2 linked regions of the Homo sapiens genome follow. The protein of the gene in region 1 interacts with the protein of each later gene in a pairwise test. Each region holds a gene or a part of one and is shown in the gene's direction. Other genes may lie near its edges.

What was found. The genes of interacting proteins can lie anywhere in the genome.
Region 2: the proteins of TRIM38 (region 1) and PSMA4 interact in binary tests that used the Homo sapiens proteins (3 or more experiments, as listed by UniProt).

Annotation. Positions count from the first base shown.
Region 1 is NC_000006.12:25,957,864-25,965,822, forward strand, and holds the start of TRIM38 (E3 ubiquitin-protein ligase TRIM38), read left to right. Parts: upstream 1-4,938; 5' UTR 4,939-4,992; intron 4,993-5,185; 5' UTR 5,186-5,419; intron 5,420-7,959. UniProt on the Homo sapiens protein: E3 ubiquitin-protein and E3 SUMO-protein ligase that acts as a regulator of innate immunity. Acts as a negative regulator of type I interferon IFN-beta production by catalyzing 'Lys-48'-linked polyubiquitination of AZI2/NAP1, leading to its degradation.
Region 2 is NC_000015.10:78,543,422-78,550,445, forward strand, and holds part of PSMA4 (proteasome subunit alpha type-4), read left to right. Parts: intron 1-768; coding exon 769-846; intron 847-1,447; coding exon 1,448-1,536; intron 1,537-2,212; coding exon 2,213-2,343; intron 2,344-3,153; coding exon 3,154-3,277; intron 3,278-5,368; coding exon 5,369-5,523; 3' UTR 5,524-7,024. UniProt on the Homo sapiens protein: Component of the 20S core proteasome complex involved in the proteolytic degradation of most intracellular proteins. This complex plays numerous essential roles within the cell by associating with different regulatory particles.

The DNA of each region.
Region 1 (7,959 bases):
ACTGAACTTCAGCCTGGGCAACACAGCGAGACTGTCTCAAAAAAAAAAAAAAAATGCTAAGACTTACTTTGGGACATCCTTTGTCAGGGTCCATGATTCTGATTAGCTCAAGGCAGGTATTTTTTTTTTTTAATAGAGACAGCATCTTGCTATGTTGGCCAGGCTCGTCTCGAACTCCTGGCCTCCAGTGACTCCCCCCACCTCAGCCTCCCCAAGTGCTGTGATTACAGGTGTGAGCCACCACACCGGTCTGGTTTTTTTTGGTGGTTGTTGTTTTAATCCTATAATCCTGTGTCCTTTCTTCCTACCTCTGAGTAGTGCTTACTCTCTCCCCTTTAGTCATTTGAAAAGTTTATCAGAAAGTGGGTGCAGTTTCAGGCTGGGTACCGTGGCTCATGCCTGTAATCCCAACACTTTGAAATGCTTAGATGGGAGGATCATTTGAACCCAGTTCAAGATTACAGTGAGCTGTGATCGTACCATTGTACTTCAGCCAGGGTGACAGTGCAAGAGCCTGTCTCTAAAAACAAACAAAAAATTGCTTTCACACTGTGATGCTATCACATCTCTCCTAAGCTCTTGTTGGGGCTCAGAAATTGATACCCTAATATATGGCCCTTGGTCATATTGAACTGAAGAAGCCTCAAAGTCTCTCTGACATCCCTGCCACCAACTATCCCTACCAAAACACATCGTGGAATTAAAGTTTCTTTATCTACCTAAGATCCAGACCCACCAAAAAGAGCAATTATTTTTATTTACCCTTCCTGTAAGACCAAGAATGTAACCATGCCCGAACGGACTTTCACAAGATAATGTTCAAGTTAATCTCTGTTCCCTGATCTACTTACTCTCCCTAGTAATGAAAGGAGTTGGCCAGCTTGCTTTAGGCAGACAGTAAGGGAATGGTACCCAGAGAACCTCTGACCTGCCCCACAAGTGCTTACACCGGATGTTTTGTGCAGATAAGGGAACTTGCACAGGGGGCTTGCCTAAACATGCCTGCAGTGGATGATTCCTTTCCTTAACACATGCACAGTTCAGGAAATTAATCAATATGGAGTAGCTCAGTCTAAAGGCCTGCATGCACTGGTAGGACAGGGTGGAGTTGTCAGGAATTTGAGTCTTAAGCCCTAGTATTCAACTGTGAAGAGCAAACCAGAAATCTGCTTTCAGGACCCTTGTCTTTGCTGAGAGCTTTCCTTTCACTTAATAAATTCTACTCCACTCATTCTTTGATGGCTGCATGCCTAATTCTTCCTGGCTGTGAGACAAAAACCCGGACCTAGCTGAGCGAAGGAGCAAAAATCCGCAACAGTAATCCCATCAACAGAGTTTCTCTTCTTCCCCTCCCATAATCTGTTTTGCCAGGATAATATATAAGCTTTTAAGCCCTCTTGGGAAGTGGATAATCATTCTATGGTTCTCCCTGTGTACATGTTAATAAATTTGTGAGTTGATTTTTCAGCAAAGTTTCCCCAGAAGCCAAAGGGGAAATTTCCCTTGGCCCCTCCACTCTCTTTTCCCAGCTCTTCTTTTACTTTCGTTTTTATTTCCTCAGCCCAGTAGGTCACAGCCTTCTTTTTATTTCTTCTCTGTCCAAACCATCAGTATATCCTACAGGTGGGAGAGAAGCAGCTCTCTGGGAAACCAGTAAGCACCATGAGTTCTGATACTTTCTAGTACCATTTGACATATTAACATCCCCGCCACCCCTAATATGTATGGACACGCACACACATACCACATCACATGCATCACACTAACACAAACTATGTATCACATACCACACACAGCACACACAGTACCACATACCCCACACAACACCCACACCACACTACGTGCATCATGCACATATGTGCACACACCTCTTGTGATGTGTGTTTAGTGCAATTCAGAAAGTTACTCTTTGATTTAATGCACATCACTATGCTTAGAAATATTCTAGTTACTGGGATTCATCAGTGAACAATATTGAAAAAAATCCATCCCTTTGCATTCTCATGAGGGAAGCAAACACTAAACAAAATAAATTAGTAAAATATTCAGTGATAAGTGCCATGGGAACAAAATAGATTTGAAAATGTTTGGGAGGGAGAGAGGGGTACACTTGCTAACAAGTGGTCAGGATAGGGTTAGTTGAGAGGCAAAATCTGAAGGAGTTGAGGAAAGGCATTCTAGGAATAGCTGAGTGCTGACTCTTGCCCACAGTGGGAACACACAGTACAGAGCTTCTGAAGGAGACTCTAGTGACCTACTTCCCATTGTGAGTCTTTGGACTCCTATATCCCATAATCACAGGATCAAGCCTAACTTTACATATTAGAGATAATGCATTCCTCCTTGGGGATAGTTCAGGTTGATTTCTCCCTAGGCCTGCCTTTGTCAACATATTCCTGAAGTCTCATCTGCACCCCATCTCTGCTTCTAATATTGGCCACTCTGTGCATGAACCAGCCCCTCCTTCCTGCAATGGGAAACAGGTGTGAGATGGGACAGCTGTCACAATCCGTTTTGCTTTTGTCTTGCTGTTATTATTGGTAATGGTAGTTTGTTTCCTTTTTAGCATTCACTAGCTTCCTTTTCCTGATCCTTTGATAGTGTTACCAGAAAGGGGGTCCCAACCCAGACCCTAAGAGAAGGTTCTTAGATCTCGTGTGAGAAAGAATTTGGGGCAAGTCTACACAGTAAAGTGAAAGCAAGAAAGTAAAGGAATAAAAGAACGGCTACTCTACAGGCAGAGCATCAGCTTCTGGACTAAGGATACTGATATGGTTTGGCTGTGTCCCCACCTAACTCTCATCTTAAATTCCCACATATTGTGGGAGGGACCTGGTGGGAGGTAATTGAATCATGGGGGCAGGTCTTTCCCTGAGTAATTTATACTGCTGTTCTCATGATAGTCAATAAGTTTCATGAGACCTGATGGTTTTATAGAAAGGAATTTCCCTGCACAAGCTCTTTGCCTGCTGCCATCCATGTAAGACCTGACTTGCTCCTCCTTGCCTTCTGCTGTGGTTGTGAGGTCTCCCCAGACACGTGGGACTGTAAGAGCATGAAACATTTTTTCCTGGTATAAATTACTCAGTCTCAGGTATGTCTGGATCAGCAGTGTGAAAATGGACTAATACAGATACTTACAGTTATTTCTTGATTATGTACTAAACAAGGAGTGGATTATTCATATGTTTTCTGGGAAAGATGTGGGCAATTCCCAGAACCAAGCGTTCCTCCCCTTTTTAGACTATATAGGGTAGCTTCCTGACATCGCCATGGTATTTATAAACCACTATGGAGCTGGTGGGAATGCCTTCTAACTTGCTAACACATTATAATTCGTGTATAATGAGCAATGAGAATGACTAGAGGCCACTCTTGTTGCCATCTTGATTTTGGTGGGTTTTGGTCAGCTTCTTTACTGCAACCTGTTTTATCAGCAAGATCTTTATGACCTGTGTCTTGTGCCAACTGCCTATTTCATCCTGTGACTTACAATGCCTAACTTCCTGGGAATGCAGCCCAGTAGGTCTCAGCCTTATTTTACCTAGCCCCCATTCAAAATGGAGTCATTCTGGTTTGAACACCTCTGACAATAGGACAGATCTGGAATGAGCCATGCCTGGGTACAGAGTCACATCCACAACAATGAAAGTTGTAGATATCTGCAAGGACTCATCGTGGGACCAAGGATTCAGGGGCTCATTCTTTCTCCTCTCTCTGTGTGCTGGTTGCCTCAGGAGTAGAATGTCCCATGCTATGCATGGGGTCTGCAACCATCATGCCAGGGCATGATGAATCGTAGGTGGCAAAACAACAGAAGGCTCTGTGAGCACCCAGGAGGGTGCAGTGCTGAAGAGTCTTCTGCTTGGTATAGGAAGAAAGGAACGTGTTTCCCAATCTTGCCTTTATTTTGAGTAGTTGGACCAGAGGGATTGCAGCTGGGCCAAACTCCATGTTCCATTGGCTATCAGGGTCAGCAGGCAGGCCAGGGGCCCAGACAGGCCAGTGGCTCCCAGAATTCAAGTTTAATTTCTCCTCCCACCTGTGTCCTGAGCTCCCCTTACTGGTTCCCTTGGACCACTGCATCTACTTAAGCCAGCATTTATTATGTTGTTATCATAAATGCCTCTTACACCTGAGACTTATAAATGTGACAAGCTCTTATTGTGAGATAGTAATCCATCTTTTTTCCCCATGAAATAATAATTCTAACGGGTGGTGATAGTACTTTTCCTTTCATTTTGAAGTGGAGAAGCTGGAGCTAAGTCATTAAGGACTTGACCCTGGACCCCACAGCCTTTTCTCCACAAAGCACAAAGCAGAGTGATGGTCCCAGGGATCCCACACAGCTCTAAGCTGGGGGCACTCACTGCTGGGCCACTAGTGACTCCCATTTTCTATCCTGGCTGACCCTCGCTATTGAAGAAGATCTGAGTCCTGCAGAAGGACAGCAAGGAGAAAAACAAGACACAGAACGGGACAGAGAAGAATAGAAAGCTGACTCAGATGAATTTTGTGATGCCAATGAGTCCTACTGCTGTTACCACCCCTTTTTCCACCACACCCTTCAGAGCAGTTATAGAACCACAAGCAACCCATAAATAGCAAAAGAAGTAACATCAGCTAGGAAGGCTTAAGGACTCCCAAGGGAGTTGGTGGCAAAAGTAGAAAGATCTCAAATCAGAGTCTGTGAACTGAACCTCTGCAGGCTTCCTGTTTTTAGATACTCTGTGTTGGGGTCACATGATAGTTTACAGGGTTATTAATTGGTTCCTTCTTTTTATTGCTGTAAAAGAAGGATATTTTCTTCCTACGTTTCCCCCTCCTTTACCGGAGAGGCGGAGTGCAAATGATATGAACAACGTCACTAGTTTTCTCCTAAATCTTATGAGCCCCGCCTCCCACAGTAGTTTCACTTCTCAGTTTAATCCGGTCTGAGTTAACTTCCTGACCCAGGAAGTGGCAGCAACAGAGGGGACTAGCAGCGAATATGTAAGTGTCTGAGCAGTGAAGGTTACGGAAAAGGTCCAGGCTAAGGTTTTCTCAGTGGATATGTGAGTGTGTACTGATGGCAAGTGGGGTGGGGAATATATTTCGTGACAGCAGGGCCCCTCCAACTCTGAAAATGGTCAGGACTTTCTTTGTTTTACAGCTCTCACCTCTTTCCTGCTCTTTCTTTCACCAGACTTTACACCAAATCTCAGAAGATTCAGAACTTAGATGAGTGGGGCCCAGGACAGGAACCCTGGAGCCTTGGAAGGAGGGGAGCCCCATCTCCCCAGAAGAGCAGTGACCCCAGCAGAGAGGGGCCTGGTGTATCACTGGAGGAAATAGCCTGCCAAGGAATACACGTCTTCAGAAGAAATTCTGTGTGGCTTCAAGAGACTGATCAAATTGTGAGAGGAAAACAGCCTACCCGGTAATTGTAGTTAAATTACTGTTTTTTATTCTAGGCACTCTTCAAACTTCCTCCTGACTCTGCCCCTGTCCTAGAGGAGCTCCCAGGAGTAGGGGTGTGGGGGCGGGCGGGGGGGAGGGATCGGGGGTACAGGGAGAGCCCAGCTAGGTTCTCAGAAGAGGCAGGCTTTTTCGCTCCTGGTCACTCCTCTGTTGCCTATCCCTGGCCTCCCCCATCTTCTTTCTGCCTTCCCTACCTCCTTGGGTCTGCAAACTCTTTATGTTGCAATCACTCTGAACATGTCTCTTGAGATAGGTCCTGTCCTGGAGAAGAGATAGTAAAAGTAAACTCCCCAGTTCTGCAGGAGCTCTGATCCCATAGAAATAACTGCTCCTCAGGAGCAAACCCTCTGCTCTGCAGCCTTCTTTCCAATTCTTATTCCCTCAGTTTAGGGAGAGGGCACAAAAAGGATAAACCGGTTCTTCTGGTTGTTCTGGTTGCCTTGATTGCTTCCATTATCCTCCTGGTTGGGTCTCTAGCAAGACGTTATTAGCCAGGGAAGTCCCACTTAGGCACCCCTCTCTGCAGAAGAGGTATTCACTATTCTCCTTTCTCTTTCTTTTGCCTATTATACCTCTGCTCCTGAAAGCAAAAACAACAACAACAAAAACACAAACAAAAAACAACCGACCTTATTAACCAGTGTTGGTTGTTGTTCTTTGTGGGGGATGGGGGGGGTCGAGGTGGAGTCAAATTTTATTGTCATGATGGTGTAGGAGCCAAGGGAACACTTCCCCTTTGCCTTCTGAAGTTCACTGAAAAATCGACTCACAAAAGGCAGGCTAATTGGAGAAAAGGCATACAAATTTATTAACAAGTACATGGGCTAGAATCACAGAGTGATTACCCCCTCTGCCAATGGGGGTAGATACTTATATAGCCTTATTTATAAATACTTATGTATAAATACATAAATATAAATATGTATGCATATGTATGTATGTATAAATATGTATGTATACTGTATAAATATGTATGTATAACGTTTATACATGTATACATATTTATTTCAGAGGGGAAGGGTGATATCAGGAGAATATAGGTAATTCTTTGAGGGGCAGTAAATGATTACTAGGGAGAATAAATGAATATTTGGGAGGATGAATGAATGGAGGAACAGAGTTTAACTTGTAAATGGTTCTCTTTGGAAAATGAATGAGCCTGAGAGACAGACATTATTTTGTGAAAGTGTCTGATTAGGTCTGGTTACATTCTTAGTCCTCTTTTCTTCAGTACAAAATGAGATAATAGGGGTTGGAAGGAAAAACAATTGTTCTTCTTGTCTAGTGTGACTGGTCTTTATGTAGATAGGGGAAAAGTCTCTTCCAGCATCTGCTGATCTCTAAGGGCCTTTAATTCAAAATACTCATTATACCAGGGAGTCATATATTGGGGTGAAGCTCCCCATACTCCTTCAATGGAATCTGTCACAGATCACCCAATTGCATAAGTGTTACTACTAATTACAAAGAGTAATTCTGGTACCAATTATTCTTTTTTTTTTTTTTAAGACAGATTCTCGCTCTTTCACCCAGGCTGGAGTGCAGTGGTGTAATCTGGGCTCACTGCAACCTCCCCCTCCGGAGCTCAAGTCATTCTCCTTCCTCAGCCTCCTGAGCAGCTGGGATTACAGGTGTGCACCACCACATCTAGCTAACTTTTTGTATTTTTAGTAGAGATGAGGTTTTGCCATGTTGGTCAGGCTGGTCTCAAACTCCTGACCTCAGGTGATCTGCCCGCCTCGGCTTCCCAAAGTGCTAGGATTACAGGCGTGAGCCACCGTGCTGGCCTGGTAACAATTATTCTTGAAGTTAACTAGAATAGGAAAGAGTTTCACACTCCCTGAGTTCTCTCTTTTACAGCTTTTGTGAGGAAGCCTGCATTGCTTCTCCCAGCACTTGGTCCAAGGTAACTTTCTGTGATAACAGAATGTTGTATATTGAGGCTGTTATGTAGCCACTAGTCACATGCAACTATTAAGCAATCAAAATGTGGCAACTGGAACAGAAAAACTGAATTTTTTCATTTTAATTTTTATTAAGTTAAATTTAAATTCCTACTCATGATAGTGGCTACTGTATTAGCTATACAGCTAGATGTTTGTGTATCCTCTAAATTCCAATGCATTTCTTCTTTCTGGAGAGAAGACTTTAGCTGGACATGGTGGCACATACCTGTAGTCCCAGCCACTCTGCCAGGGTGAGGCAGGAGGATTGCTTAAACCCAGGAGGTCGAGGCTGCAGTGAGCTGTGGTCATGCCACTGCCCTCCACTACAGCCTGGGCAAGAGAGCGAGAACTTGTCTTATAAGAAAAGAAAAAGAGGCTGGGCACGGTGGCTCATGCCTGTAATCCTGGCACTTTGGGAGGCTGAGGCGGGTGGATCACAAGGTCAAGAGATCGAGCCAACCAACATGGTGAAACCCCATCTCTACTAAAAATACAAAAATTAGCTGGGCGTAGTGGTGCACACCTGTAGACCCAGCTACTACTCGGGAGGCTG
Region 2 (7,024 bases), on another chromosome or scaffold:
AAAATGAAATGCACCTCTAGTAGGAGCCTAGCCCTGTACTTCCTAAGCAGGCTTGTAAACCCTCCTGCCATTGTCCCCTGTCACCTCTGTCAAGCCAGGCCTTAGGAAATGAATATTACTCAAGAGCAGTCTGTCTAGCAAAATCTTTTTTTTTTTTTTTTTTTTGAGACAGATTCTTGCTCTGTCACCCAGGCTGGAGTACGGTGACGCCATCTTGGCTCACTGCAGCTTCTGCCTCCTGGGCTCAAGTGATCCTCCCACCTCAGCCGCCCAAGTAGCTGGGACTATAGGTGCGCACCACCACACCCAGTTAGTTTTTGTATATTTTGTTGAGATGGGATTTTGCCGTATTGCCCAGGCTGTTCTTGATCTCCTGGGCTCAAGCCCTCCATCTACCTCGGCCTCCCAAAGTGCTGGGATTACAGGCGTGAGCCATTGTGGCAAGCCTGTCTTTTTATTCTTTGTTGCTGAATCTTCTTGAGATTACATTAGCTTCTTGGCGTTAATTTTGTTATCCTATTCATAGGTGGTAATGATAAATACATCTATTAAATAACTTAAAGGGTGCATTTGTTTATCTTTCATGTTGAGTGACATCGAGTAAACATCTCCTACAAAGATAAAACTTGTAGGTTTTTTCTGAAGGAAGTAGCTGTTGTGAAGCAAACATAGTGAATTTCTAATAGAAATTAGAATTTTTTAAATACTTATAAACACTCCTTGCAAGCATCTTCCCTGCTTACAGATCAATGTCTTTTTTTCTTCAAGGGACATGGCTTGCAGTGTGGCAGGCATAACTTCTGATGCTAATGTTCTGACTAATGAACTAAGGCTCATTGCTCAAAGGTATGGTCATAAATAGCATAACTGATGATACAGAAATTAGTTTTGATGTTTCTTTTTTTTTTTTTTGAGACAGAGTCTCACTCTGTCACCCAGGCTGGAGTGCAGTGGCACGATCTTGGCTCACTGCAACCTCCGCCTCCCGGGTTCAAGCGATTCTCCTGCCTCAGCCTCCCAAGTAGCTGACCACCACACCGGGTTAATTTTTGTATTTTTAGTAGAGACGGGGTTTCACTGTGTTAGCCAGGATGGTCTCGATTTCCTGACCTCGTGATCCGCCTGCCTTGGCCTCCCAAAGTGCTGGGATTACAGGCATTAGCCACTGCACCTGGCCTAGTTTTGATGTTTCTAAGGAGAGCTCACTTTTGCAAAGATTAAAGTCATTAAAAATCTTTGAATTGAAAATTACAGATTTTTTTCAACCAAACTTACAAAATATTATTTACTATGAGAATATTCAGATGTTGACTTGTTCCCTCCCCTTCAAATTACAAATGACTGTTAGGTTGTCCCCATGGCATAGATTGCTTTTCAGAGAATATTTTCCTTAGAGTCTGTCTGTGTTTTAGAGAAAACTACTAATGTGCCCATCTCTTTATCCTAGGTATTTATTACAGTATCAGGAGCCAATACCTTGTGAGCAGTTGGTTACAGCGCTGTGTGATATCAAACAAGCTTATACACAATTTGGAGGTATTTAATTTTTTTGAAAATTTTATTCGAAAAAGTTAAGACATTTTATGAGTTATAACCCTTTTGAGGTAGTAAAAAATTGAAAATAGACCCTTTGTTTTAAATTAAATTTAATTTTTTTAATTGGCAAATAAGAATTGTACATATTCATGAGGTACATAATGATGTTTCAGTGCACATAATGATCAGATCAGGGTAAATGGCACATTCATCATCTCAAACACTTGTGTTGGGAGCCTTCCATATCCTTCTAGCTATTTGAAACTAATATGTTATGGTTAACTATATTAATCCTACAGTAGTATAGAACACTAGAATTTCATACATTCTTGCTTCATGAATGAACGTGTTCCTCCACCATGTAGATTACCCTCGTTTTATTAATAGGATATTGAAAGTCCAAAACAACATTTTCAAATCTGGAAACTAACTGCTGTTTACATAATAATGAAATTCAGCACTGGTCCTTTGTCTGTTCCCTCTTCTGGCTGTGTCCAAATCGTAGAAACAAAAGTCGAATTTGTAATGGAGCTTATCTATGGTAGCCAGAATACAAAACAGTTTATGAATGCTTAAGTTCACAGAGTAGGGTTTAGCTACCTTCACTGAGCTCAAGTAACTGTAGTGATACTAAATTTAGATTATTGATATGTTTGGCTTTTTTTCTTTGTTAAAGGAAAACGTCCCTTTGGTGTTTCATTGCTGTACATTGGCTGGGATAAGCACTATGGCTTTCAGCTCTATCAGAGTGACCCTAGTGGAAATTACGGGGGATGGAAGGCCACATGCATTGGAAATAATAGCGCTGTGAGTATTTTTGTTGTGCTATAAAATCTAGCAGAATGTCTAATAACTGCCATAATTTTGCCATGGTGATGAATGTAAACAGTATTTTAAGATAGCTGCAACAACCTTAATGTGATATGGAAATATCTGTGATTTCTGTTGGTGACAGCATTGCTGATATAGCTAATATACTGGGGTTCGTTAACTACATTAATAAATGCTAATTTTCAGTTAGGAGTTGTGAAATTAGAAGCTGTGATTTTGTTTCACATCTAGTTTACAGACCCCCTGTATTCTATGACAGACCCCTTGGGAGACTGAGGACCCCAGGTTAAAGACACTCTTTATAGAGCATTAGTACCCCCTCTTCTCACCCCGTGCCGTGTGTGCCCTCCCTGTCATCAAAATTATGTATATGGGCCAGGCATGGTGGCTCATGCCTGTAATCCCAACACTTTGGGAGGCCGAGGCAGGCAAATTGCTCGAGCTCAGGAGTTCGAGACCAGCCTGGGCAACATAGCAGAACCCCATCTCTACAAAAAATACAAAAATTTGCTGGGCGCCATGGCATGTGCCTGTAATCCTAGCTACCCAGGAGGCCAAGGTGGGAGGAGGAGCACCTGAGCCTGGGGAGACTTGAAGATACAGTGAGCTGAGATCATGCCACTACACTCCAGCCTGGGCAACAGAGTGAGCCCCTGTGTCAAAAAAAAAAAAAAAATTGTTTATACTTGTAATGCCAATAATAATTCAGGCATTTTTCTTCTAGACCAATTCATGTTTCTAAAAAATGTAAAAACTTAAAATTCTATGTTGATTCATGTTTTATAGGCAGCTGTGTCAATGTTGAAACAAGACTATAAAGAAGGAGAAATGACCTTGAAGTCAGCACTTGCTTTAGCTATCAAAGTACTAAATAAGACCATGGATGTTAGTAAACTCTCTGCTGAAAAAGGTAATTCATATCCTCTCCTTTAATTCTTTCGACTGAGTGAGGGAAATTAGCAGCTGTTAAGATTTTTTTCTTTTTTTTTTTTTTTTGAGATGGAGTCTCGCTCTGTTGCCAGGCTGGAGTGCAGTGGCGCAATCTCAGCTCACTGCAACCTCCGCCTCCTTGGTTCAAGTGATTCTCCTGCCTCAGCCTGCCGAGTAGCTGGGACTACAGGCTCGCGCCACCATGCCCAGCTAATTTTTGTATTTTTAGTAGAGACGGGGTTTCACCATGTTGGCCAGGCTAGTCATGACCTCCTGACCTCAGGTGATCCTCCCGCTTCAGCCTCTCAAAGTGCTGGGATTACAGGCGTGAGCCATTGCGCCCAGCCAGCAACTGTTAAGATTTTAACATGTCATCCTAGTTCATTGAAACAGCAACCTTACGAATTAGGTGATGTTATCCCTGTCTTCTAACTGAGGACACTAGGGCTTAATGAGGTTAAGTGAGTTGACCAAGATCAACATTGGTAAATTGTGGAGTCACAATCTCACACTGTATTCCAAACTTAAAGGCTTGATACTGAACAATCTCATTACTCACAGATAGACATCCTGCACTGTGCTACTTTTAGTTAACAGTTATCAAGTCTTCTCATCAATGATATCTTTGCTTGTGTGTATATATGATAAAGCATACGTATGTAGTTATATATTTATACATAGGTTTGGTATACTTTACCAGAGATACAACATTTGCGTGGGTTGTGATACCCTCTCCTGTTCTTCTTAATCTACTAATCTCTTATTTTAAGCTCATGTTAGCAATTCCAAATACCTTGTTCAACTTAAGCTATATGACTATATAAAAGAATATTTCAGTCGAGCTTGGTGGCTCATGCCTGTAATCCCAGCACTTTGGGAGGCTGAGGTGGGTGGATCACCTGAGGCCAGGAGTTCCAGATCAGCCTGGCCAACATGGTGAAGCCCCATCTCTACTTAAAATACAAAAATTAGCTAGGCATGGTGGTGCATGCCTATAAATCCCAGCTACTTGGGAGGCTGAGGCAGGAGAATCACTTGAACCTGGGAAGCGGAGGCTGCAGTGAGTTGAGATCATGCCACTGCACTCCAGCGTGGGTGACAGAGAGAGACTCTGTCTCAAAAAAAAAAAGAATATTTCTAAATGTTTTTCAGAAATTGTGGTAAATTAACATGTTGCTTTATGTTAGGACAGTTTAGCTCCTGGTGTTCCTTAGAAAATGCCATTTACGGCCGGGCATATTGGCTCACGCCTGTAATCCCCAGCACTTTGGGAGGCCGAGGTGGGTGGATCACCTGAGGTCAGGAGTTCAAGACCAGGTTGGCCAACATGGTGAAACCCCTGCCTCTACTAAAAATACAAAAAATTAGCCGGGCGTGGTGGTGCGCACCTGTAATCCTGCTACTCAGGAGGCTGAAACAGGAGAATCACCTGAACCCAGGAGGTGGAGGTTGCAGTGAGCCGAGTTTGCGCCATTGCACTCCAGCCTGGGCAACAAGAGCAAAACTCCATCTCAAAAAAAAAAAGAAAAAGAAAATGTCATTTACATGCAGATTGCCCTCTTTTGTCTACTTCCACCCAGTTTCAAGGAAGCACTACTCAGTTTCCCTGGTACAAAAAAATTCCTTCCCCTTTAGGTATCAGTCTGCTTTTCTTGGCCATTTCATGCCTTTTATTTATTTATTTTTTTAAGAGACTTGAAAAGTCCATAAAAAATAAGCTGTTATTACCAGTTGAAGATTCTGGCTGAGCCCTCAGAGGTTCCAACAGTTCCGTCTAATCAGCACAGCTAATAGCAGGCCGGCAATAGCAATTGGTTGATTATACTTTTTCTAAGGGAGTGACAAAATGGCTGAGGAGACGATATTTAAGTAAAAATTATAATTAAAACATTACAAGATCAAAAGTATATTGTTCTCATAAAAGGGAATAATGTTAAGTATAAAACATAGGAGAGTGCTGAACTAACGTTTCAATGATGTGGCGAGCATAAACCATGAGTGCCTATTAAGCTTCTCTGCTAAGTATGCCTGCCTGCCTGCAATACAAATAAATGTATGTGTTTGTTTTTAGTGGAAATTGCAACACTAACAAGAGAGAATGGAAAGACAGTAATCAGAGTTCTCAAACAAAAAGAAGTGGAGCAGTTGATCAAAAAACATGAGGAAGAAGAAGCCAAAGCTGAGCGTGAGAAGAAAGAAAAAGAACAGAAAGAAAAGGATAAATAGAATCAGAGATTTTATTACTCATTTGGGGCACCATTTCAGTGTAAAAGCAGTCCTACTCTTCCACACTAGGAAGGCTTTACTTTTTTTAACTGGTGCAGTGGGAAAATAGGACATTACATACTGAATTGGGTCCTTGTCATTTCTGTCCAATTGAATACTTTATTGTAACGATGATGGTTACCCTTCATGGACGTCTTAATCTTCCACACACATCCCCTTTTTTTGGAATAAAATTTGGAAAATGGAAATGAAGGAATAAATTCTCTGTAGCAGTAATTGTTAAATATACAAAAACTGACAGGGCGATTACTTTTTGCACATTGTGGCTTACAGTCCTTTCACAAAGATGGGCACGTTCCTCAGGCTGGCCAGATTATTCGTCTCTGTCTGCAGGAATTGGTTTGAGAATGAACACGTGAGCTGAACAAAGCCAGAATTGATGTGTGGGTGTGGATCTCGCAGCTAGGACTGAGGCTGCCCACAGGCAGCAGCTCAAGCTGCGCGGAAGATGAGGTGTAGAAGTTAAGGCCACAGAGGAAAAGTGGAACCAAGAGATGAGAACAGTTACGTGTTGGCTGAAGGGAGCTCTGTTGCTGGGGTTTGTTCAACCTGAGTTCCCTTGGCTATCTGTGGCTTCATGACAGAAGTGATACAGGGCAGTGGTACTTAATGCGTAGCCATGGTGCTTTAGCATCACCTATGCAGATTCTGATGTCCCATCCCAGATCTACTGAATTAAAATCTCTGAGGGTGAAACCCAGTAATCTGTTCTAACAAGCTCTGCATGTGATTCTTAGGAATGCTAAGTAAAACTTTAAGAAGTTTTTGTTGCATATTAGAATCACCTAGGAAGCTTTTGCAGCTTGTAAGCATGCTGTATCGATTAACTCAAGCTCTGTGGTGGAACCCAGATATTAACATTGCTTAAACTCTTCAGGTGATTTCCATCAGCTAGGGTGAGTGCATTGAGCCATCATTTACCCTTCTCTCAGCTGTTGTCAACCAAATATGTGCTCCCAGTCTAATTTCTCATTGTAGATTTTCTTAATGCAGCTCCCTGCAGTTTTCTGTATAGGCTAAAGTATTTACAAGCCCTATTTGCAGCACTTTTTTGAACTTCTAAATTATTCTCTTACTCTGTACAGCAGGTTCTCGTTATTTTTGGTAGTTATGTTCTAAAGTCACCACAAAAACTAACAAAATACTGAACTCTTGCACCTAGAGAAAGTACTGGGTTAGGGTCCTACAAGCCACTGGTCACATTTTTATCAACTGATCAGTACATAACCTGTTTTTTGTGTATTTCTACTTAAAGACACCTTTTTAAATGTGTATTGTGGATTCATTAACATAGAACTCAGCCAACAGCTCTTTACGTGAATGTTTTTGTTTTGTTTTGTTTTTTGAGACTGGGTCTTGCTCTGTCACCCAGGCTGGAGTGCAGTGGCGTGATCATATTTCACTGCAGGCTCAAACGGTCTTCCTGCCTTGACCTCCCAAA